Regions from separate parts of the Homo sapiens genome. Here all the other regions are linked to region 1. The links come from fine-mapping of genetic effects on gene expression. A gene starts in region 1. Each other region holds a variant in brackets. All regions are shown on one strand. Distances are from middle to middle. Region 1 holds the start of ZFPM1 (zinc finger protein, FOG family member 1). Region 2 overlaps ZFPM1 (zinc finger protein, FOG family member 1). Region 3 overlaps ZFPM1 (zinc finger protein, FOG family member 1). Region 4 has its middle 13 kb from the start of ZC3H18-DT.

Region 1 (5,146 bases):
CCAAAAATGTCTTCTTTGGGCTGAGGTTGTTTTTGGAGGGGAGGCAGTCTCCAGGCCACTGCCAGACAGCACTTCCTATGTGTTCCAGGCCCTGCTCTCCCTGGGAGCCAGCAGGGGAGAACCCAGTGCAGCTCCTGAATGCAATTCCAACTTCCCCACCAGTGACTTTGGATGTGAATCTCAACACACCTCGAGAACATGCAGGGGCAGATGGAAACTGGGGTTCACAATGGGCAGCAGGTGGGGGGTGGAGGTCCTAGGTGGGCTCAGCCTGGACAGCCTCAGCAACCCCACGCCCTGTTCCTCTCCCACCTGATCAGGGACTCCTGGAAAGCCCCACTTGGATGTCACCTTCTCCAGAAAGCCTTCTCTGATTTCCCCAGGCAGAGATGGCCGCTCCTGCTCTGGGCTCCCCCAGACCATCCTCTAGACAGCATGCCTTGTGTCTCTTCCTCAGTGTATGGTTATCGTCATGACCACCCTGAGGGTTTAATGGTGTGTGCAAGGTCCTGCAGCTTTACCACTCGACATCAGCAGGCAGCCTCCCCTCTTGGCTGCGGTTTTCTCATCTGTAATAATGCCTTCCTCCGGGCAGGTAGAGGGACAGAGTGTAGAAGGAATGTGCTACAAAAGCAGCCCTGGCAGGGTTAGGGGACCTGTGACCGGTGCAGGGGCACAGGGCCCGAGCTGGGAAGGGCACCACACCGGGCTCAACATCCTGCCCTTGATGCCCTGGGGTTTTGGGGTTTGGGGGTTTTGATCAAGGGGGCTCCACATTTTCATATTTTCATTTTGCATGGGGCCTTGCAAGTGATGGAGGCAGGGCAGCAGGCTGTGGTCTGGACCTGCCGCCTGCCCCCTTCGCTGGCTTCCCTGGGCATGTCCCTCCATGTTTTCATCTATATATGGGCTCATAGAAATAAATCAGATCAGGCAAAGCAGCAGCCAAAATGATCCCCATCGTCTCCTCCTGCAGCCTAGACAGACATCAATCATGGATGATCATGGCTGTCTCCTGTTGACCCTCGGAATCCACCTCAACACAGATCTCCGCCCGTTCCAGCAGCGCCAGCCTGGGTGCCACTTGCTGTGCGTGGAGCTTCAGACCCAGCCCAGGTGCCAGCCCATGGCCACCTCCTCCAGGAACTCCCCTAACTCACAGGTCCACATACTCTAAAGTGGACTTCTTTGGGGAAGGAGGCGAGGCCTGGTGGGAAACCCAGACAGGTAGGTGCTCCATCCAGTTGACAAGCACTGGGTGGGGGCGGGAGGGTGGGGGGGAGGTCCTAGGTTGAGTGAACCAATCAGACATGGGCCCCACCCCCTCCAGAGAGCAGCTGTGGGAAGGCTGTGCCCACTGGACCCTGGCAGAGAGCAGGAAGGGCTGGAGGACCCGTATGCCCCTGGGCAGCTCTCTTGGCCTCCTGGTCTCAGTGTTCCTGTCTGTCCATGGCAGTGGGGAGGGACGGCGCATATCCAGTGTTGTACCCCTGCCTCTCCTACCCACCCGCCACTCTCCTGTACCAGGCTCTGAGGGTAAGCCCCCACTTCTCCCCTTCCTTGGAGCCAGGGAATAGGTCACAGAAGTTGGCACGAGATGGGGTCTTAGGAGCTCCCAGCAGGCTGGCGGGTGGTGTGACAGTCCTGCTGTGCGATGATCTCATCATCAGGTGGGAGGGGTCCTTCCTGTCTGCCCCTGGGCCCACTGACGCCCGTTTCTTATGAGTACGGGGGATGGGGGAGCAGGTAGCAAGTGTAGACCGAGAACATTAAAAGGAGATGATACAACTCAGCTGGGAGTGGGGGACAGCCCCCCAATGCGTGACCTTGAGCAAGTCCCCGAGCCTCCGTGAAGTGGGGCTCTTGAACACACCCCAGAGGGCAACAGTTCTCCATTTCCAGGCCTGAGCTGACAGCACCGCGCCCACAAACCTCGCTGACCTCTGACTGCTCCGAGAGGGGGCTGTGGCCCGGGCGCTGTGGGCAACTCCTTCGTGGGTCTCCTGCGGGGCGCCCTGGAGAGGCTCGGTGAGGAAAGAGGCCCCAAGTGGCAACGCCCAGGGCTGCCGGCTCCCGCGCCCCCTCCTCGATTTCCAGCCTGGTCTGAGCTCACAGGGGAAGACCCGAGATCCTGCTCTCAGTTGGCGGACCCCACCGCAGTCTGGGACGGAAGCCCCCTCCCTGGCCCGAATCCGCTCCACACCCCAAGTCTGGCCCAAGAGAAACGTGGGCGTCAAGGCCTCGGGCTTCCTGAGCCGGTTGTCACTGCCCCCACCGCGCACGTGGAGCGTGCGGCAGAGCCCAGGGGTCTAGGGAGGGACCAAGGGCTGGGGGCGGAGTTACAGTGCGGGGGCGGAGCCTCGGCGTCTCAGGACCCAACCAGGTCGGGTCAGGTTTGGAGGCGGAGCTGGCGCCGAGAGGCGGGGCGCAGGATGCGGTGCCGCGGGGCAGCAGAACAGAACCGAATAGGTCTCAGACTCCCAGCGCGGCCTGGGGACATGACCTCCGGGCCAAAGAGGAGTGGGGGAGGCTAGAGGTCTCCCCGGGGCGCGGGCGGGGCCGAACCAGGAAGGGGCGGGGCATCGAGCGGGGCGGGGACAGTGCCTTGAAGGCCCAGACGGACAGGGGCGGGGCCGCAGCGCTGGGGTCGGAGCCAGCGCCGTAAAGAGCGAGGCGGGCGGGGGCGCGGTCGCGGCTCTGGGGGCGGAGCCAGAGCAACGAAGAGCCGGGCTGGCGGGGGCGTGGCCGCGGCGCTGGGGGCGGAGCCGGAGAGGTGCAGGGCCCGGCAGGAGGCACGGGGCGGGGCCGGAGCGCCGGGGGCGGGGCGGGAGGTGCGGCGGCCGACGACGCTCAGGCCCGGCCCCGCCCCGTGCCTCCAGCCCGCCAGGAGCGCCCTCGCAGTGGCCGCCTGCTCCGCCGCTCGCCGCCCGCGGGTTCCATTGAGAAAAGCCGAGCGGCCGCGGCGGCGGCGGCGAGTGCGCGGGAGCGGAGGAGCCGGCACCCGCCCGTCGGGCAGTCCGCGCGCCCGCAACGCAGGACCGTGGCCTCTCGGGCCTCCGCGGCAGCTCCAGCGGCTCCGGGGCTGGGCGCGCGGGCTGGGGGCGCGGGCCGGGGCGGCCGCGGAGACCGGGGGCCGGGGGCATGAGCGGCCCCGCGGCCCCGCCGCGCCCCCGCCGCCCGCCGCCGCCCGCCCGGGGCTAGAGGCGGCCGCCGGGAGGGCGCGCGGCGCCGGAGACATGTCCAGGCGGAAACAGAGCAACCCCCGGCAGATCAAGCGTGAGTCAAACTTTGCCCGCGGTCCCCTCCGCGCGCCCGACCCCCGCCGGAGCCCAGCCGCCAGCGCCGCCCCCGCCCGTCCCCGCTCTGCCCTGGGCGCCGGCGACCTTCACCCCGCGCCGCGCCCCCCGCGCTGTGCCAAGCGCGCCGTAATCTAATCTCCGCCGGCGGCCTGGGCCCCCGCGTCTCGGCTTGGGCACCGGGGGGTTCAGCCCAGGAGGGGGCCGCCCGGAGGCCGGGAGGAGGGTGTTTGGGGGCGCGGCCCGGGCAGCTCGGCCCCTCGCGGCCTGCCCCTCCCCCGCATCTGCGAGATGGTGCGGCGATAGGGCGGCCCCGATCTGGGCTCAGATAAAGTTTAAAATATTACATTCTGCAAGTCCCGTCCTGATAAGATCGTTCTGTCGGGACGGGCTGAAATTGTGATCTTATCTCGCGCGGTTGACTCTCCCAGGCTTTGTATCTAGAAGCGAAGAGAGAGACCTGGGAGGCAGAGGGGACACCCGGGGCCGCGGAGATGCCTGGCCAAGTGGCAGGCACCGGCCCGCGCCCACCCCCACCGGTGCCGTCGCAGAGCCGCAGGACAGGGGAGGGGGTAGCGCGCAGCTGCCGCAGCCTAGGCACTTGGCTCCAGCCCCCCAGACACCCCCACCCCGTGCCCTAGCGCTGAAGTCCTGAACCCAGGCCCCGCCAGCCTGGTGACACCTCCTGGACCCTGCAAGTGTCCCAGCCAAGGCGGCATGGGCAACAAATGGTGCCCTCGGATGCCCGCGGGCACCCCCTGGCATCCCAATGGGCTGCTCTGAGTCAGAGAAGGGCCTCCCAGGACGCAGCCCCGGGCCGGGGTCGCCCCTGCACGCCACTAAGTTTCTCGCTGGTCCGGCTCCCTGCCCGGTCAGAGGCTGCTGCCCCGCCGCCACATTGCCAGTGCCCCCGCGATGAGAACTAAGCTGTCGGGGCCACTGTCTGGCCTGGGCCTCTGGGCTGTGCCAGGAGGGAGCAAGAGCACAGGAAGCTACCCTCCCCACCCTATGCCAATAATAACTTTGCGCCTCACAGTTAGGGCCCAGACGCAGGTCTTCCTCCCCGGGGCGCCTCCCCGGAGCCTGACGGGCAGGTCGTCTGAGCCCTGCCAGGAGGCCACGACGGAAACCCGCCCGCTGCCCAGCCGTAGGCGCCCGGGCACTACCTCCTTTGTCCACACGACCACTGCCACCAGGACCCCTTGTGCGGGGCCTGTGGGAGCTTCCCTACTCAGGAGGTCTCCCGAGGCGGGGGTCACAGGCATGAACCGGTTCCCGTAACCCAACTCCCTCAGCGCAAACGGGACCTGTTTTCCGAAAGTCGCCTTCTATCGTGTCAACTCAAGTATTAAAAGCCACCCACAGGTCCCGATCCGCGCTTGTGCTCTGGTTTCTTTTTCCTTCCTTCCCTGAGCGCCTATGTTCGGTTCTGGGGTGTGTGTGTGTGTGTGTGTGTGTGTGTGTGTGTGTGTGTGGTGTTTCACTGTGATGAGAAATGCAGATAGCTCGGACAGGGAGATCGCAGGTTGGAAACCGATCTCCAGCGCTGATAAGGCCGCCAGCGCCAGCGAGAGCCCGTAGCCCAGCCCAGCGGGGCGGGCAGAGCGCGCGCACTTTGGGAACTGGGACCGCGGCGGGTGCACGGTGAGCCACCGCGGCCCATCCTCGTTGCGGCCCGGGACCGGGGCAGAGAAAGGGCCCGGACGAGGAAGGCAGGGCCGCGGACCCTCCCTGTCGCTCGCGGCCCGGGGCGCCTCCTCCCCATGGCAGATCTCAGCACGTTAAGATGCGAAGGCTGATTGTCACCAAGCGGCGGCGCCCGCCCGCCCGCCCTCTTGCCAGCGCCTGTG
Region 2 (5,104 bases), 84 kb after region 1:
GGAGCATTTCCGCCTGGCGCACGGCCTGCTGCTCGGCGCGCCCCTGGCCGGCCCGGGGGTCGAGGCCCGGACGCCGGCCGACCGCGGCCCCTCGCCCGCTCCCGCCCCCGCCGCCTCCCCGCAGCCCGGGTCCCGTGGCCCCCGGGACGGCCTCGGCCCGGAGCCCCAGGAGCCGCCGCCCGGCCCGCCCCCGTCCCCGGCCGCCGCGCCCGAGGCCGTGCCGCCCCCGCCGGCGCCCCCCTCCTACTCGGACAAGGGCGTCCAGACTCCCAGCAAGGGCACGCCGGCGCCGCTGCCCAACGGCAACCACCGGTACTGCCGTCTTTGCAACATCAAGTTCAGCAGCCTGTCCACCTTCATCGCCCACAAGAAGTATTACTGCTCCTCGCACGCCGCCGAGCACGTGAAGTGAGCGCCCACACTACAGCCGCAGACGCTTTGCACGCCCCGCTGCGATGCGGGGAGGGGGCCGCCCCCAGGCCGCACGGACTGCCGCTCCTGGGAACCCCGCCACGCACAGGCCTCGGCGGAGGGGGCCGCAGGGGGCAGCGCCCGCCTGGACCCTTGGCACTTAATAAAGAAGTTCAGTTTGATGAGCATGGTGGTGGGCCAGCCTAGTTCTCTGAGCCAGCAGGCACACGCAGCCAGTGTCACATCCAGCCCTGCTGTGTACACAGGCCACTGCGGCCCGGAGTGGCTGGGCCCCTGCCGGAGTTACACCACTGGGTGCTAAGAGCTAGACCGAGCGTCAGGTCGGAGGCCACAGCACACACTGAACCACTGCAGGGCCAGCCGCTCTGGGCCTACCCCACCCCAGCCCTGTCCATACCCCCCTAGGGAGAGCAGCCTCCACACTGCTGACCCTCTCCACGGTCTACTTGGCCGCCAGACACGGAAGAGAGGGGCACTGACCTGGCTGGCCATCCCCCAACCCTGCATGGTCCTGGGGGTCCGATGTCCCCCATCCAGTCACAGACCACCAGGGATGGCAGGGGTGGGGGCGCCCTGGGGAGGATGAAGCCCTGTGGTGGCCAAGGCTGGGGGAAGAACAGGCGAGTAGGTGGACAGGAGAGGGAGACCGAGGCCGAAGCATTCCCTGGCCTCGAGGGGGTCCTGATGCTCACTGGTGGGTGCATCTCTCCCTCAGAGCCAGGGCTGAGGACAACCGTGTGGTGGAGTCACCTGTGGTGGCTGAGTCGGTGCAAGGGTCAGGGCACCCCCACCCCCCGTCTTCCCTGCCCTGCTGGGCTGTATGGGCCGGCCACACTGAGGGAGTACTTGGCTGACCGCGTTCAGCCACGGTGTCACCGTGCCGTTTGCAGCTGGGTGGCTGTGGGCAGCCTCCAGCGTGCTTTCTCACTGGAGAACAAAAACACTCTTCTATTCCCAACGTCACTTTATTTTTTTATTTTTGGGTCTCACTCTCTTGCCCAGGCTGGAGTCCCTGGGATACTCACGGCTCATTGCAGCCTTGACCTCGTGAGCTCAAGTGATCTTCCCACCTCAGTTTCCTCAGTAGCTGGGGCTACAGGTGTACACCACCATGCCCAGCTAGTTTTTGTGTTTTTTGTAGAAATGGTGTCTCCCTATGTTGCCCAGGCTGGGCAACCCTATATTTTTTAGAGCTAAGGTCTTGTTCGGTTCCCCAGGCTGAAGTTCAGTGGCACGATCATAAGTCACTGCAGCCTCAAACTCCTGAGCTGAAACCATCTTCCTGCCTCAGCCTCCCAAGTAGCTGGGACTACAGGCTTGACCCACCACACCTGGCTAACTTTTAAAACATTTTTATAGAGACAGGGTCTTCCTGTGTTGCCCAAGATGGTCTCAAACTCCTGACCTCCAGTGCTCCTGCAGCCTCAGCCTCCCAGAACATTAGGATGACAGGCGCGAGCTACCATTCCCAGCCCATTTCCAACTCTACTTGAACTAGCTGCATTTTTTTCAGCTTTGCCCAGCAGCCCTGGTGAGTGCAGGCAAAGAAGGCAGCGGCCTCTTGCCTCAGAAGCCCGAGGCACTTCCCAGCCAGTCCAGGGCTCGCTCTCCTGCCCGCAGCTCGTGGGCCTGGGTCTGCAGCGCTTTCAGTGGTCTCTGATGTCTTTGTCCACCTGCCCACTAGGGTCTGGCCAGATGGGGCCCGTAGCCAAGGCCAATGGACAGACATGGCTTCCACCCCCTCCCAGGGACCTGAGCTCCAGGGAAGGCAAGCAGCCTTTTCCTCACAGACACCCCTTCTGTTGAAGACCAGGTGATAGCGGGGACGGGAGGCACGGACCCCTCAAGTCTGCTCATCATTTGCATTGTTGTGCATGAATTTGCGTGGAGGGTTCAGGAGGCTCTGCCCCCAAGTCCTCCCCAGGTGC[G/A]GGCGCAGGGTACAAGATGTTCTAAAAAATAGAAACCTGGTGGGGGGTTGTCACTGTGTGTACATTTAAAAGTAAACTGTTTAAAGGTGTCTAGAAACTACGAATACAGTCTCTGGTGAGTGACAGGTGCTCAAAGGGGGTAAAAAACACAACTCCAGTGTCCTCACCCCCTTTGAGCCCCACCCCAAACCTGACCAAGCGAGGCCCTGGAATGCAAGACGCAGAGGAGAATCTGGAAGACAGCCCAGCAGTGCCGCACAAACCCGCCATGCACCCAGACGTGCCTCAGTGTCCACACCTGTGCCGCAGGAGTGGGAGTTCGGGCCTGGCAACCCTTCCTGGGGGCTCATCTCAGAGGCAGCAAGGACCCTGTGACCGGGACCCAGACCTGAAGTCACCCCAGAGGGCCCCGCCACGGCCCGGACTCGAAGCTTAGGGCAGCACACTGAGCCTCACGAAGGGCCCTGCGCCTGTCCTGGCTTGCATAACCCCCTACTGTCCCCACCATGCAGGGCTGGGTACCGCTGCCATCGCCCGTCCCAGGTCATTGGCGTGTGGCCAGAGCCCGTCCCCATCGCACCCAGGACTCGCCTCGGGCACGCGTCTTCTGCACAGACCCTGGGGCCCCCACACCTGGCAGACGCCATCAGTCACCCCTACTCCCTCAAGCCATCACCCCAGTCTCCCCCCACCAGACCACCGCCTGGGCCTCCACCCTGTGCCTCCCCTGTAGCCGCTGACTCGGTGGTGGCCCAGGCCTTCTCCCGCCTCTCCCCAGGAAGCTGCCTGCCCTGCTCACAGACACCCCCTCGGCCCCCCAGCTGGTTCTCTGCTGAGCCAGGTTCAAGGCTCTGAGTCTGCCCTGGTCTCCCCTTGAAGTTCTCCCTCCACACTCCTGGGGTGGGCTCATGGTCTTCTCTCCACTAATTCTGTAGTCTAGCCACGCCTCCCCTGAGCCCCAGACCTGCAGACCTACAGCCCCTGTGTCCTTCCAGGCCCTTGATGTACCATGAGTGACTGTAACCCCACGCACCTGTAACTTCTGCCCACACCTGTGCAGGTGTTCCCCTCCCCCAAGCCCACCTGTCTCCCCACACCAGTGCAAGCACCCCCCTGGCTCACTGTCTCCTCCCCTCACCTGCACAGGCATCACCCCGAGCCCACCTGTCTCCCCACCAGCCCACCTGTCTCCTCCCCTCACCTGCATAGGCATCCTCAGTGGCCCCCTGCCCCTCAAGCTGGAGAGCATCAGCCTTGCCTATTCACCCTTCATTGTCAAAGCAATGCTTGATTTGTCCAAATCCCACCGCTTCCCAAACCCATCCACCATCGCCGACTCCCAGACCTGGGACTTCACCCTTGAGTCTCTCTGAACAGCCGCTTCCAAATCTCGAGGGTCCACTCCTCACACAGCTGCCACCGCTCCCCTCTCCCAGGCTCACCCTGCTCTGAGGCCCGTCCCCGCCCCCAGGTGCCTGTGCTTCGCGTAAAACCCCTTCTGTTACTGGCCCCATCCTTCAGAGGTCAGAAGTCCCCCTTCTCTGCCTCAGCACAGAGGAGAGGAGCCTCCCGTTGGCGGCCTGTCCCGACGGCAGCCCCTGGCCCTGCTAAGCCCACCACCCGCTGGGCTCCATGCTGCAGCTGGTTGCTCCAGGCAGTGCCTCCTGATGCCCTCTCTACTCCTCCGAGGCTGTCCTTGTCATCCAGCTCTCAGCTTAGGTGCCCCCTCAGACCTGTCCCTGGCTCACTTCCCGCGTAGGAACGGTCACTCTGCACCTCTGTCCCCAGCTCGCTCCCGTGTAGGAATGGTCACTCTGCACCTCTGTCCCCAGCTCACTCCCACGTAGGAACGGTCACTCTGCATCTCTGTCCTCTTGCCCGTCGCCTACTGGCCTGTCTCCTTTGAAAGCTGGGGCTGCGCCTGCTTGACCTCTGCCTCCCAGGCACCCACAAGTGGCCGACACAGAGGAGGGGTCTGCATCTGTTGAAGTCACAGGGGTGTGTGTGGACCACAGCCAGCCCCTCCCCATGCCCAGCAGTCAGTCCAACTGTCACAGCCCACTTTCCAGCCACACTGTCCACTCATGGCACACGGCCACCGTCACAGCCCACTCTCCAATCACACTGTCCACTGAGTCCCATGTGTGACCTGAGCTTCTTGGATCTCGGACCGCTGCATTCCAAGCTGCTCTCTCCCCACTCCTCCCCCCTCCCCACTCCCCCCAGCTTTGCCTGTGAAACTCCTTCTCTCCTCAAGACTGGCTTAAAAGGTCCCCCTCAGGGCCACCCAGCCAGGCTGTACCCGTCCCCTGCCCTGCACAGGATGGGCCTCCCGCCTCCACCCTCCTTCTTCCAGGAGGGCACCTGCTCCCTTCTACCTGAGCTGCATACAGCTCAAAGCCCCTTGCAGGCTGGCAACTCCCAGGCAGGGTCAGCCCAGCCTGCCGGGAGTCCCTCACGCTACTTGGGACACAACGTCCACGAGATGATGCAGGGCAGCCTCGCCCTCCTGAGGCCCCTTCCTCTGCCAGGCACAGGGTCTGTCCTCTCAGCCACACCATGGGCTGAGTGCCCTGACTGTGCACGAGGGCCCCAAGGTTCCATCGGGACACACCTCCTGCCCAGGCACCTGGCGGGCACAGCTGGGCCAGGACACATCCCTCTGCTGGCTTCCAGCACTCGGTTCTCGACCACCAGCCGTACTGCTGGGCACTGGCTCCCAGCCACGCCCTGGCTTACAGAAA
Region 3 (5,146 bases), 48 kb after region 1:
GGCCCTCCGGGATCTGCTCCTTGGTGAGGGAGACACCCCAAATCATGACGAGGTAGGAACCCCACATGTCCGAGGGGCAGGCAGAGCCGGCCTCGCTGAGCCGACGTTTGAGTTCCAAATGAACGAGGGGCGTCTGGAAACGGTGTCCCAGGCCGAGGGCGCAGTCCCGGAGCCGGGGGCACCCCTCTAATCTGGAGTGATCGCAGGGGTGAGGCAGCAGTCAGCTCAGAGCCTGAGGCCCCATCACATTGGGCCTGCGGCTGCAGAGGGTGGTTATCTTGGAAACTGAGTTCAGAGGTCGCAGGCTCTGGCTGGCCTGACCCTGGGTCGTTGGCGTGGACACCTTGGCTGCCCCTGGCCCTGAGCCTTCCCATGACACCCTTCCCTCCCCTCTCCCAAGCACTGGCCCCAGGCCTGGGTGGGGGCTGCACCCGGGTCCTGCCTGCACCACCAGACCCCAGGCCTGCCTCTCCACGCAAGGCCCTGTGGGCGGAGCCCCTGGACAGGGTTGAGCTTGGGGCCAGAGCCATCTGCAGCCCCCGAGGCCGGCTCCCCTTCCTTCATCCCCAGCTCCCCAACGGCCCCCGTGGCTCCCCCATGACCAGGCTGCCGGCACCCTGGGGCCTGGCTGACCTCCCGCACCCACCCCAGCCCTGGCCATACAGAAGCCGCCTCCTGAACCTGGCCCTGACTTCAGCCTCCACCCCGGGAAAGTCACCTGGGCCTCGAAGTCCCGAAATCGCAGGCAGAGCCGGCACTCACTCACTCCCTTGTACTTCCATTTATTGAGCACAAGCTATGTGCCAGCCCTGTGATAGACAGGGGGATGCAGCGTGAGGAAAACAGACCTCCTCCAGAGCAGCCGCGGAGGAGAAGAGAGCAGTCGTGGGGGCCGCGCAGCGGGTGGGAGACGCAGGCCAGGGCAGAGGAAGCCGGGTACAGAGGCCTGGGGTGGGGCCGGCCCAGCTGACTTTGGGAGCAGCGAAGGGGCCAGGGGGCAGGCAGGACCGCGCACGTGGACAGGGCGGAGCCTGGTGCCTAGCAGGCTGGACACGGAGCAGGTCTGCGTGCAGTGTGGGGGACCCCACCTGGGTGGCCCCTGAATCCCGCTGGCTGGGTGGAGGACGGCTCAGGGGCAGACAGAGGGAGATCTGAGAAAGGGCTTGGCTGAAGTGGGCAGTGTCCCCATTCACAGATGGGAAACTGAGGCCAGGAGAGGTGAGGTAGCCACCCCACCCCCATGCTGGGGAGGGGCCGAGTGGGCACAGAGCCCACAGGCCTGCCTCCCAGGGAAGGGCCCAGGCCCACCCATCCAGCCTCTCCGGGTCCAGCCCCCAAGTCCCGTGGGCTCCCCGGCCCCTCCTCGGCCCCATGCCAGCAGAGGGTGAGCGGACAGTGGATGCCCCATGAGGAGCGCAGCCGGAGCCCTGGGTCTCCAGCCATCCTGGTGGTTGGGGGGCGGGGGCCGGGCCTGGCTGCCTGCCGTGCTGCCCTCTGGCCTCACCACCTTCCGGGAGAGGCTATCTGTGGCCAGGGCAGCCTATCTCGGCCGCAGGCGCTAATCAAGCTGGCTTCCTCCTCCGCCCTCCCACCCGGCTTCCTGCCCCGGCCATCCCCCACCACCAGCCCCCACCCAGGCCCCGCCGTTGCCCTACCGGCCCCTCCCAGACATCTCGGGGGCAGGCCCACCAGAGTCACCTGGGCGAGCCCCTGGAGCCCCGGCTACTGCCCAGAAGCTTCCCTCCTTGCCCCTCCTGGGCCTGCCGCATGGCCGGGGACACAGCCAGCTCCCCCCATGAGCTGGTGGCCTCGTCAGGAAGACGGCCACAGGGCGCTCTTGGGAGGACCCTTGGGACAGTGGGCAGGCGCTGGGCAAGCCACAAGCGTGTCGCTGGCAGCTGCTGCCCCAGCTGCCCTTGTTCCCACCACTACACCCGTGTCACCACCAGCGTGGGCACCGTGACTGTCACTAGCACAGAAACAGCGCTATTAGAGAGTGCTGCTGCTGGCCTGGCCGCTGTCACCTTGCTGGTGCTGTCGCTGTCACTCTGGGTCATTCTGTCACCTTGCTAGGACTGTTGCTGCCAGCAGTGCTGTTGCCGTTACTGGCACCAACCCTCCCGCTGGCACAACGGCAGACTCAGCTTCCAGGTGTCACCTCTCTCACCGCAGACCTGGGGCCTGTTGTGCCCTGTTCTGGGCTCAGGGTCCTCATCTGTGAGACGTGGACAGGACAGTTCAGGCTCCCTGGGGCTGCTGGGGCAGGGCAGGGCCCACAGTTTCTCTTTCCCAGCAAGTCTGCGTGGTCAGCTCGGATCTTGGCCACCCTGGGCTGAGCCAGGTCCTGGGCACAGTGCTGGGTCCCTAGACGGCACCTCGGTGTCCTCACCTGACCGACAGGTACAG[C/T]GGGCCCTCCCTGTGGGGGTGCAGCCTTGGCTGGGGATATGTCAGGGTCTCTAAGGCTGGCCCCTCCCCACACTGGCCTGACTTCTCCACCTCCTCCTGCCCAGGAGGGAAACTGAGACACCACTGCTGGTGATGGAGGTAGCGGTCATGGATGCGGGGGCCCTCCCGCAGGTGCTGGTGATGATGGAGATAGCAGACATGGATGCGGGGGCCATCCCGCAGGTGCTGGTGATGATGGAGATAGCAGACATGGGTGCGGGGGCCCTCCCGCAGGTGCTGGTGATGATGGAGATAGCGGGTGTGGGTGCATGGGCTCTCCCGCAGGTACTGGTGATGATGGAGATAGTGGGCCTGGGTGCGGGGGCCCTCCCGCAGGTGCTGGTGATGATGGAGATAGCAGACATGGGTGCGGGGCCCTCCCGCAGGTGCTGGTGATGATGGAGATAGCAGACATGGGTGCGGGGCCCTCCCGCAGGTGCTGGTGATGATGGAGATAGCAGACATGGATGCGGGGGCCATCCCGCAGGTGCTGGTGATGATAGAGATAGCAGACATGGGTGCGTGGGCCCTCCCGCAGGTGCTGGTGATGATAGAGATAGCAGACATGGGTGCGTGGGCCATCCCGCAGGTGCTGGTGATGATGGAGATAGCGGGTGTGGGTGCATGGGCTCTCCCGCAGGTACTGGTGATGATGGAGATAGTGGGCCTGGGTGCGTGGGCCATCGCGCAGGTGCTGGTGATGATAGAGATAGCGGGTGTGGGTGCAGGGCCTCTCCCGCAGGTGCTCTTGATGATGGAGGTAACGGGTGTGGGTGCCGGGCCCTCCCGCTGGTGCTGATGATAATGGAGATAGCGGGCATGGGTGCAGGGCCCTGCCGCTGGTGCTGGTGATGGAGGTAGTGGGCGTGGGTGCAGGGCCCTCCTGCCACTGCTGTTTGCCATGGGATCAACCCCAGCCCGCGAGGGGGCTCCTGGGCCGATGAGCAAACTGAGGCCCAGTGAGTTCACGTGGTTCATCCGAGGTGGAGACCAGGCCGGTGAGCCCTGACCTCCTGACCCCAGCCCTGCAAACGCCCCAACCCATGGTTTAACACTCCTAGTAGCTCCTCCACCCCCGACGCGGCTCCACCCGCCCCCCCCCATTTATTTATTTATTTATTTATTTATTTATTTATTTATTTATTTATCTCTCCTCCTTCTCTGCGTGTAACTTTTTATTTCCTCACTGCGCTTTTCCATTACAGCGGCCGTGGACGCAGCTGATAAGATCGGTCCCCGGAGATGGGACAAAGGGGCCGCCATCGGCTCGAGGGCTGGTCATATCCTGCCCGAAAGGGCCGAGCAGGGCCTGAGATGCGGCAAGATGCTATCTCGGGTTTATTGCGTCTCGTGAGGGTGCCTCCCACCCCGGCCCCCCGCCCTCTCCCGCCCTGCCCAGGGGCCCGGGCGCCGGGCACTCAGGACCCACCTCTGCCCCATAGGCCTGACGCCTCTGTGCTTGCCCCTCCATGTCCCCCAACCCCGTCCCTGTGCCCTGTGGGCCGCCCGGGGCCATGGACAGGGTCTTTGGCCCCAGGTTCCCATCTGGATCCACCCTGGAGTCACTGTAGGTCTTGGGCTTGTCCCCAGCCTCCCAGAGCCCCACTGTCCCTTCCCGTCCAGTGCTGCTGGAGGCAGTGGCCTTGGTGACCCCCCCTAGCCGAGGGTCCCCACCTCGCAGGTCGGAGCCACCCGGTCCGGGCTGCCCCAGCGCCAGCAGCTGCTGCTTCCCTTGACTCAGCAGTTGGCTCCTGGGAATTTATCCCAGAAAAATCATCCCGGCATGGGCGGGCTCAGGTCAGCATGTCAAAGATGGCAAGCCATTTATTTTTTTAAATTTTTGCTGTCTTGCCACGTTTCTTCCAGAGAAGGATGTTCTAAGGGCAGCAGAGGCCACGTGGATGCCCGTTTGTGGGTCTCTGCACACACGGTGGCCGGACGGCAGATCCGGGGCTGCCCTCAGAGCGCTCGCCACCCCCACCCGCCTTTAGCTGTCGTTCCTCCAACCCCACCAGCCATGAAGGCCCCTCAGGGCTGGAAGGCTGTGTGCGGTCTCTTCGGCAGGTGGGAGGTGGCAGGGGCGCTGCTCCGCGGGGCAGGGTGGGTGGATGAGCACGGCGCCCCTGGGACAGGAACCCCCACTGTAGCACAGTGCTTGATTCAGGGGCCAGTGGGGACCCCCGTGGGTCCTGAGCAGCGGCACAGGGGAGGGAGCTGTGTCTGGGGGGCCACGGTTCCTGAGTGGAGGGATCTGTGTCTGGGGAGGGGCCCACGGTTCCTGAGTGGAGGGATCTGTGTCTGGGGGGCCCACGGTTCCTGAGTGGAGGGATCTGTGTCTGGGGAGGGGCCCACGGTTCCTGAGTGGAGGGATCTGTGTCTGGGGGGCCCACGGTTCCTGAGTGGAGGGATCTGTGTCTGGGGGGCCACGGTTCCTGAGTGCAGGGATCTGTGTCTGGGGGGCCCACGGTTCCGGAGTGGAGGGATCTGTGTCTGGGGGGCCCACGGTTCCTGAGTGGAGGGATCTGTGTCTGGGGAGGGGCCGGCCTGTTCTGCCTCCAGGGCTCCTCCTGCTTCCTGGTCTTTCCCACCCTCTGCCTGGCCTGCATCTGACTCACAGCCAGCTGCCTCTCTGTGGAGCCAGGTCCTCTCTGACCTCGGTCTTCTCATCTGTGTTGGGGTGATCGGTGCCATGGCAGCACCC
Region 4 (5,146 bases), 96 kb after region 1:
ATTTCTAAGGTGAGAAAACAGAGGGTGGACAAGGTGAGGGAAGAGAGGGTGGAGAAGGCGAGGGGACAGAGGGTGGGGAAGGTGAGGGGACAGAGGGTGGAGAAGGTGAGGGGACAGAGGGTGGAGAAGGTGAGGGGACAGAGGGTGGGGAAGGTGAGGGGACAGAGGGTGGAGAAGGTGAGGGGACAGAGGGTGGGGAAGGTGAGGGGACAGAGGGTGGAGAAGGTGAGGGGACAGAGGGTGGAGAAGGTGAGGGGACAGAGGGTGGGGAAGGCGAGGGGACAGAGGGTGGGGAAGGCGAGGGGACAGAGGGTGGGGAAGGCGAGGGGACAGAGGGTGGGGAAGGCGAGGGGACAGAGGGTGGGGAAGGCGAGGGGACAGAGGGTGGGGAAGGCGAGGGGACAGAGGGTGGGGAAGGCGAGGGGACAGAGGGTGGGGAAGGCGAGGGGACAGAGGGTGGGGAAGGCGAGGGGACAGAGGGTGGGGAAGGCGAGGAGAGGGTGGGGAAGGCGAGGGGACAGAGGGTGGGGAAGGCGAGGGGACAGAGGGTGGGGAAGGCGAGGGGACAGAGGGTGGGGAAGGTGACCGGACAGAGGGTGGGGAAGGTGCGGGGACAGAGGGTGGGGAAGGTGCGGGGACAGAGGGTGGGGAAGGTGAGGAGACAGAGGGTGGGGAAGGTGCGGGGACAGAGGGTGGGGAAGGTGACTGGACAGAGGGTGGGGAAGGTGACGGGACAGAGGGTGGGGAAGGCGAGGGGACAGAGGGTGGGGAAGGTGACCGGACAGAGGGTGGGGAAGGCGAGGGGACAGAGGGTGGGGAAGGCGAGGGGACAGAGGGTGGGGAAGGCGAGGGGACAGAGGGTGGGGAAGGCGAGGGGACAGAGGGTGGGGAAGGCGAGGGGACAGAGGGTGGGGAAGGCGAGGGGACAGAGGGTGGGGAAGGCGAGGGGACAGAGGGTGGGGAAGGCGACGGGACAGAGGGTGGGGAAGGCGACGGGACAGAGGGTGGGGAAGGTGAGGGGACAGAGGGTGGGGAAGGTGAGGGAACAGAGGGTGACAACCATCCAAGTGTGAAACTCATGGGTATGTGCTTGGGCTGCAGACACCCTGGCCTCACCCCACCTTGGCCCTTTTGATCCATGAGACTGCACAGTTCCCCTCCTGGACCCTTGGTTCCCCCCACACCCAGGAGGCATAGAACAGGCAGGACATCCTGTGGCCAGAAAGATGATCGGGGGTCTCCAGGGCACGGAGCCCCCACCCACACACTACAGTAGGGATTGACAGCAGCCTGACCGCCACTGCCCTTTCCCCTGTAAGGTGGGGTTCCCAGTGGATGGCCAGAGGGTCCCACCCCAGTGGCTCCAATCCCCACCCTCCACGTCAGCACCAGCCAGGTGGTCACCGTCAATGACCCTGTCACCCTCCCGGGGGAAGGGGCTTCCAGGCCCACAGCCCTGGCAGGTTCATGTGGGGCACTGGCCCTCTTCCTGCCCCACCCACCAGCCCTGTGGTCTGGGCGCCTGGCTCACACCTCCCTTCCTCCCACACGCACCAGCCACAGGCTCCAGGGTCTCAGAGGAACTCCTGGGACATCCCTTTATCTGGCACCAAAGCCCGGGGCAGGGCCTGCATGTTGACCGACTGCCTTCTCTGCTCTGGCTGGGCTGAATAGCTGGGCCCAGCTCCCTCCCGGGGACTCTTCCCCCAGCCAGGGTTCACCTGAAGGCACCAGTGAGGCAGCGCCACCCCGAACAGGGGTCCCCAGACTTTGGAAAAATCACAAACCAGAAAACTGTCGACAATCACTTCCGGGTTAGCATAGGACTCTAACCTTATGTTTTTTCCAGATACTGACATTAATTTTTTTAACTATTGCTCAATAGTCTCAATATCTCATAAAAGCACCTTTTAGCACCAAATACAGTAGGATAGCACAATCTCTGCACAAAAAGCCTTTTACACGAAAGTATTATTTTTTTTAATAGAGACGAGTTCTCCCTATGTTGCCCAAGCTGCTCTCAAACTCCTGGGCTCAAGCGATCCACCTGCCTTGGCCTCCCGAAGTGCTGGGATTACAGGCGTGAGCCACCGCGCCCGGCCCACATGAATGATTTATTCCACTTGGCGCTCCTTTTCCTCGTTTCACTGTACATCGATGAAGACATTGGCACCAACGCACAGGTCCATGGATCAGAGTTGAGGAAAGTCTGTTCCAATCTTAACCCTTTTGGTGCTGGCTTTGTTTTACTGAAGACGAAACAGAGGGTCCAAGTGGTTACATCCCGAGCGCCGGCAGTGGCTGCACGAGGCAGGACTGCCTCCAGCTCTAACTGTACTGCACCTGCACCCACCAGCCAGGGTCCGCCGCTTTCAGCCGGAATCCATAGACAATTCACACGGCAAAGAGAGGAGACCAAGCTTGGGTTTCAAAATGAGCTGAAATATCAAAGCAGAATAAAGTCACTTCTTTAAACGTGGGGCCATTTCAGAGTTAATTTCACAAAAGGAGACATCGTGTTGCTTCAAACTGCTGTGCAAACATCAGAGTGACTCGTTATCTAAGTCTCAGTCAGAAACACTGGCAGTCACTTCTGATCTGCGTTAGATTGTAAGTCATTTGTTCTCCTCTAAATAGCAACAAGAGGCCGGGCATGGTGGTTCATGCCTGTAATCCCAACACTTTGGGAGGCCGAGGCAGGTGGATCACAAGGTCAAGAGATCAAGACCATGCTGGCCAACATGGTGAAGCCCTGTCTCTACTAAAAATACAAAAATTAGCCGGGTGTGGTGATGCGCACCCATAATACCAGCTACACGGGAAGCTGAGGCAGAAGAATCACTTAAACCTGGGAGGCAGAGGTTGCAGTGAACCGAGATCACGCCACTGCACTCCAGCCTGGGGACAGAGC[G/A]AAACTCCATCTCAAAAAAAAAAGAAAAAAAGAAAAGAAACTCTGAAGTCAGTCTGAAGCCTGGGAGGGACAAAGGTGTTTTGCAGGTTCCTGCAGCTCAGGCACCCAGCGGGGGCTCACTTGAGAGGGTTAAGAGGGTGAGTGCCTGGGAGGAGCCTTCAATCAAAACTTAGCTGTAGCTGAGTCCAACTGTGTGGTACCTCCCCAGCACAGCCCTCTGACCTGGGAACAGGCCCAGAGAACACAGAGGGAGTGAAGGTTGGTTATCTCCCCCTGAGGTCTGCGCTCCTACCCCTGGCTCCTGATCCGAGCCCTTGCTGTCAGAGAAGACAGGAACCTCACACTTCCTGAACACGCGCAATGCCCCTACCAAAACACGGGAGCTGCAGGCGGGCCTTTGGTCTTCTTCTGCTCCGTGCCCATTGCCATCTTCCAGAAGACACACATCATGCCTGTTCTCTCCTTCCACGCCAGGCCAGGGGAGAGGGTGGCCCCCACCCCAACCCCAACTCTGCTCCAACCGAAGGAGCCTCCTCCTGTGTGCACCCCCGTCCCCAGCACGGCGCAGCTCTACCACCAAACAGACAAAGCACAGCCAGCTCTGATTGACCCAGGGAGGCCGGGGACCTTGCCCTCTGGAGCAGCCCACATGGCCCACGGATGGCGCAGTGGCCCCCACACAGAAGGCTGCCCTTGGGCTCCTTTCCGGAGCGGCATGGCCCGGAGGAAGTGGCCAGGTAGCAAGGCCAGGCTACAGTGAGGCTGGCGGAAAGAAGAGGAAATGGGCGTGGACACCATCTGCCGGACTCAGAGCCCTGGGGACTCAGGCAGTCTGACAGCAACCTTGGCCCATGAAAACACGGAGCCTAAGGGGCTCCCGGGAGAGGACAGTCCAGGCTCCGAGCCCAGCTCAGATGAGAGGCTGCCCGGATAATGACCTTCAGAGGGCTCTGCTCATCATTACATGAAATTATGCAAATGAGACTTTATGTATTTATTTAAGAGTCTCTGTTGCCCAGGTTGGAGTGCAGTGGTGTGATCTGGGCTCATTGCAATCTCCACCTCCCAGGTTCAAGTAATTCTCATGCCTCAGCCTCCCAAGTAGATGGGATTACAGGCGTGAGCCACCGTGCCTGGCCAAGACTCTTTTAAAATGCGAATTCAGGCCAGGCGAGGTGGCTCAGGCCTGTAACCCCAGCACTTTGGGAGGCCGAGGCAGGTGGATCACCTGAGGTCAGGAGTTCAAGACCAGCCTGGCCAACAGGGTGAAACCCCGTCTCTACTAAAAATACAAAAATTAGCTGGGTGTGGTGGTGTGGGCCTATAATCCCAGCTACTTGGGAGGCTGAGGCAGGAGAATTGCTTGGACCCAGGAGGTGGAGGTTGCCGTGAGCTGAGATCACGCCACTGCACTCCAGCTTAGGCAACAGAGCGAGACTCCGTCTCAAAAAACAAAAAACAACAACAAAAAAAAACCCACCCCATTAGCAGCCGCCTGCCTCTCCCCCTCCCCAGCCCAGACACCCCCAGTCCTTACCCCTGCTGTGGCTTTGCCTGTTGTGTGCATTCTGGAGACACAGAGGCACACGCATGTAGCCTCTCGTGACCGGCATCTTTCACTCTGCAGAAGGGTCTCAAGGTTCGTCCCAATGTAGCCTGTGTCAGCGTTCCACTCCTTTTTATGGCTGAAGAATTTTCCAGGCACAGATGGACCCCATTTCGTTTTTCCATTCACTCATCAATGAGCACCTGGTCTTGTCACATTTTTATTTTTCATTTACTTATTTATTTACTTTTTGAGACAGGGCCTCACCCTGTCACCCTGGAGTGAGGGTGGAGTGCAGTGGTGTGATCTCAGCTCACTACCACCTCAAATTCCTGGGCCCAAGTCATCCTCCCGCCTCAGCCTCCCGAGTACTTGGGACTACAGGTGTGCACCACCACACCCGGCTAATTGCTCTGTCGCCCAGGCTGGAGTGCAGTGGTGCAATCTCGGCTAACTGCAACTTCCGCCTCCTGGGTTCAAGCGATTCTCCTGCCTCAGCCTCCTGAGTAGCTGGGATTACAGGCGTGCACCACCATACGTGGGTAATTTTTGTTTTTGTTTTTGTTTTAGTAGAGATGTGTTTTCACTATGTTGGTCAGGCTGGTCTTGGACTTCTAACCTCAAGCAATCCACCTGCCTTAGCCTCCCAAATTGCTGGGATTATAGGCATGAGCCACCACACCAGGCCT

What was found.
Region 2: its variant is fine-mapped to the expression of ZFPM1 in whole blood (TOPMed, PIP above 0.99).
Region 3: its variant is fine-mapped to the expression of ZFPM1 in whole blood (TOPMed, PIP above 0.99).
Region 4: its variant is fine-mapped to the expression of ZFPM1 in whole blood (TOPMed, PIP above 0.99). The same link has a PIP of 0.9 or more in blood mononuclear cells.

The regions. Positions count from the first base shown.
Region 1 is chr16:88,450,403-88,455,548 of GRCh38, forward strand. It overlaps ZFPM1 (zinc finger protein, FOG family member 1), which reads left to right and starts at 2,878. Exons shown (of 10, transcript NM_153813.3): 1 at 2,878-3,276. The coding sequence starts at 3,237. RefSeq lists silencers at 2,603-2,902, 2,913-3,002, 3,463-3,592, 3,813-3,882, 4,823-5,146.
Region 2 is chr16:88,534,568-88,539,671 of GRCh38, forward strand. It overlaps ZFPM1 (zinc finger protein, FOG family member 1), which reads left to right. Exons shown (of 10, transcript NM_153813.3): 10 at 1-2,464. The coding sequence ends at 412. Among named protein-coding and RNA genes, the nearest start is that of ZFPM1-AS1, 6.1 kb to the left of the region's middle. RefSeq lists a silencer at 1-80. The variant G/A (reference allele first, on the strand shown) is at 2,361.
Region 3 is chr16:88,498,519-88,503,664 of GRCh38, forward strand. The region is part of intron 3 of ZFPM1 (zinc finger protein, FOG family member 1); the gene reads left to right. Among named protein-coding and RNA genes, the nearest start is that of ZFPM1-AS1, 30 kb to the right of the region's middle. The variant C/T (reference allele first, on the strand shown) is at 2,407.
Region 4 is chr16:88,546,834-88,551,979 of GRCh38, forward strand. No RefSeq gene overlaps it. Among named protein-coding and RNA genes, the nearest start is that of ZC3H18-DT, 13 kb to the right of the region's middle. The variant G/A (reference allele first, on the strand shown) is at 2,912.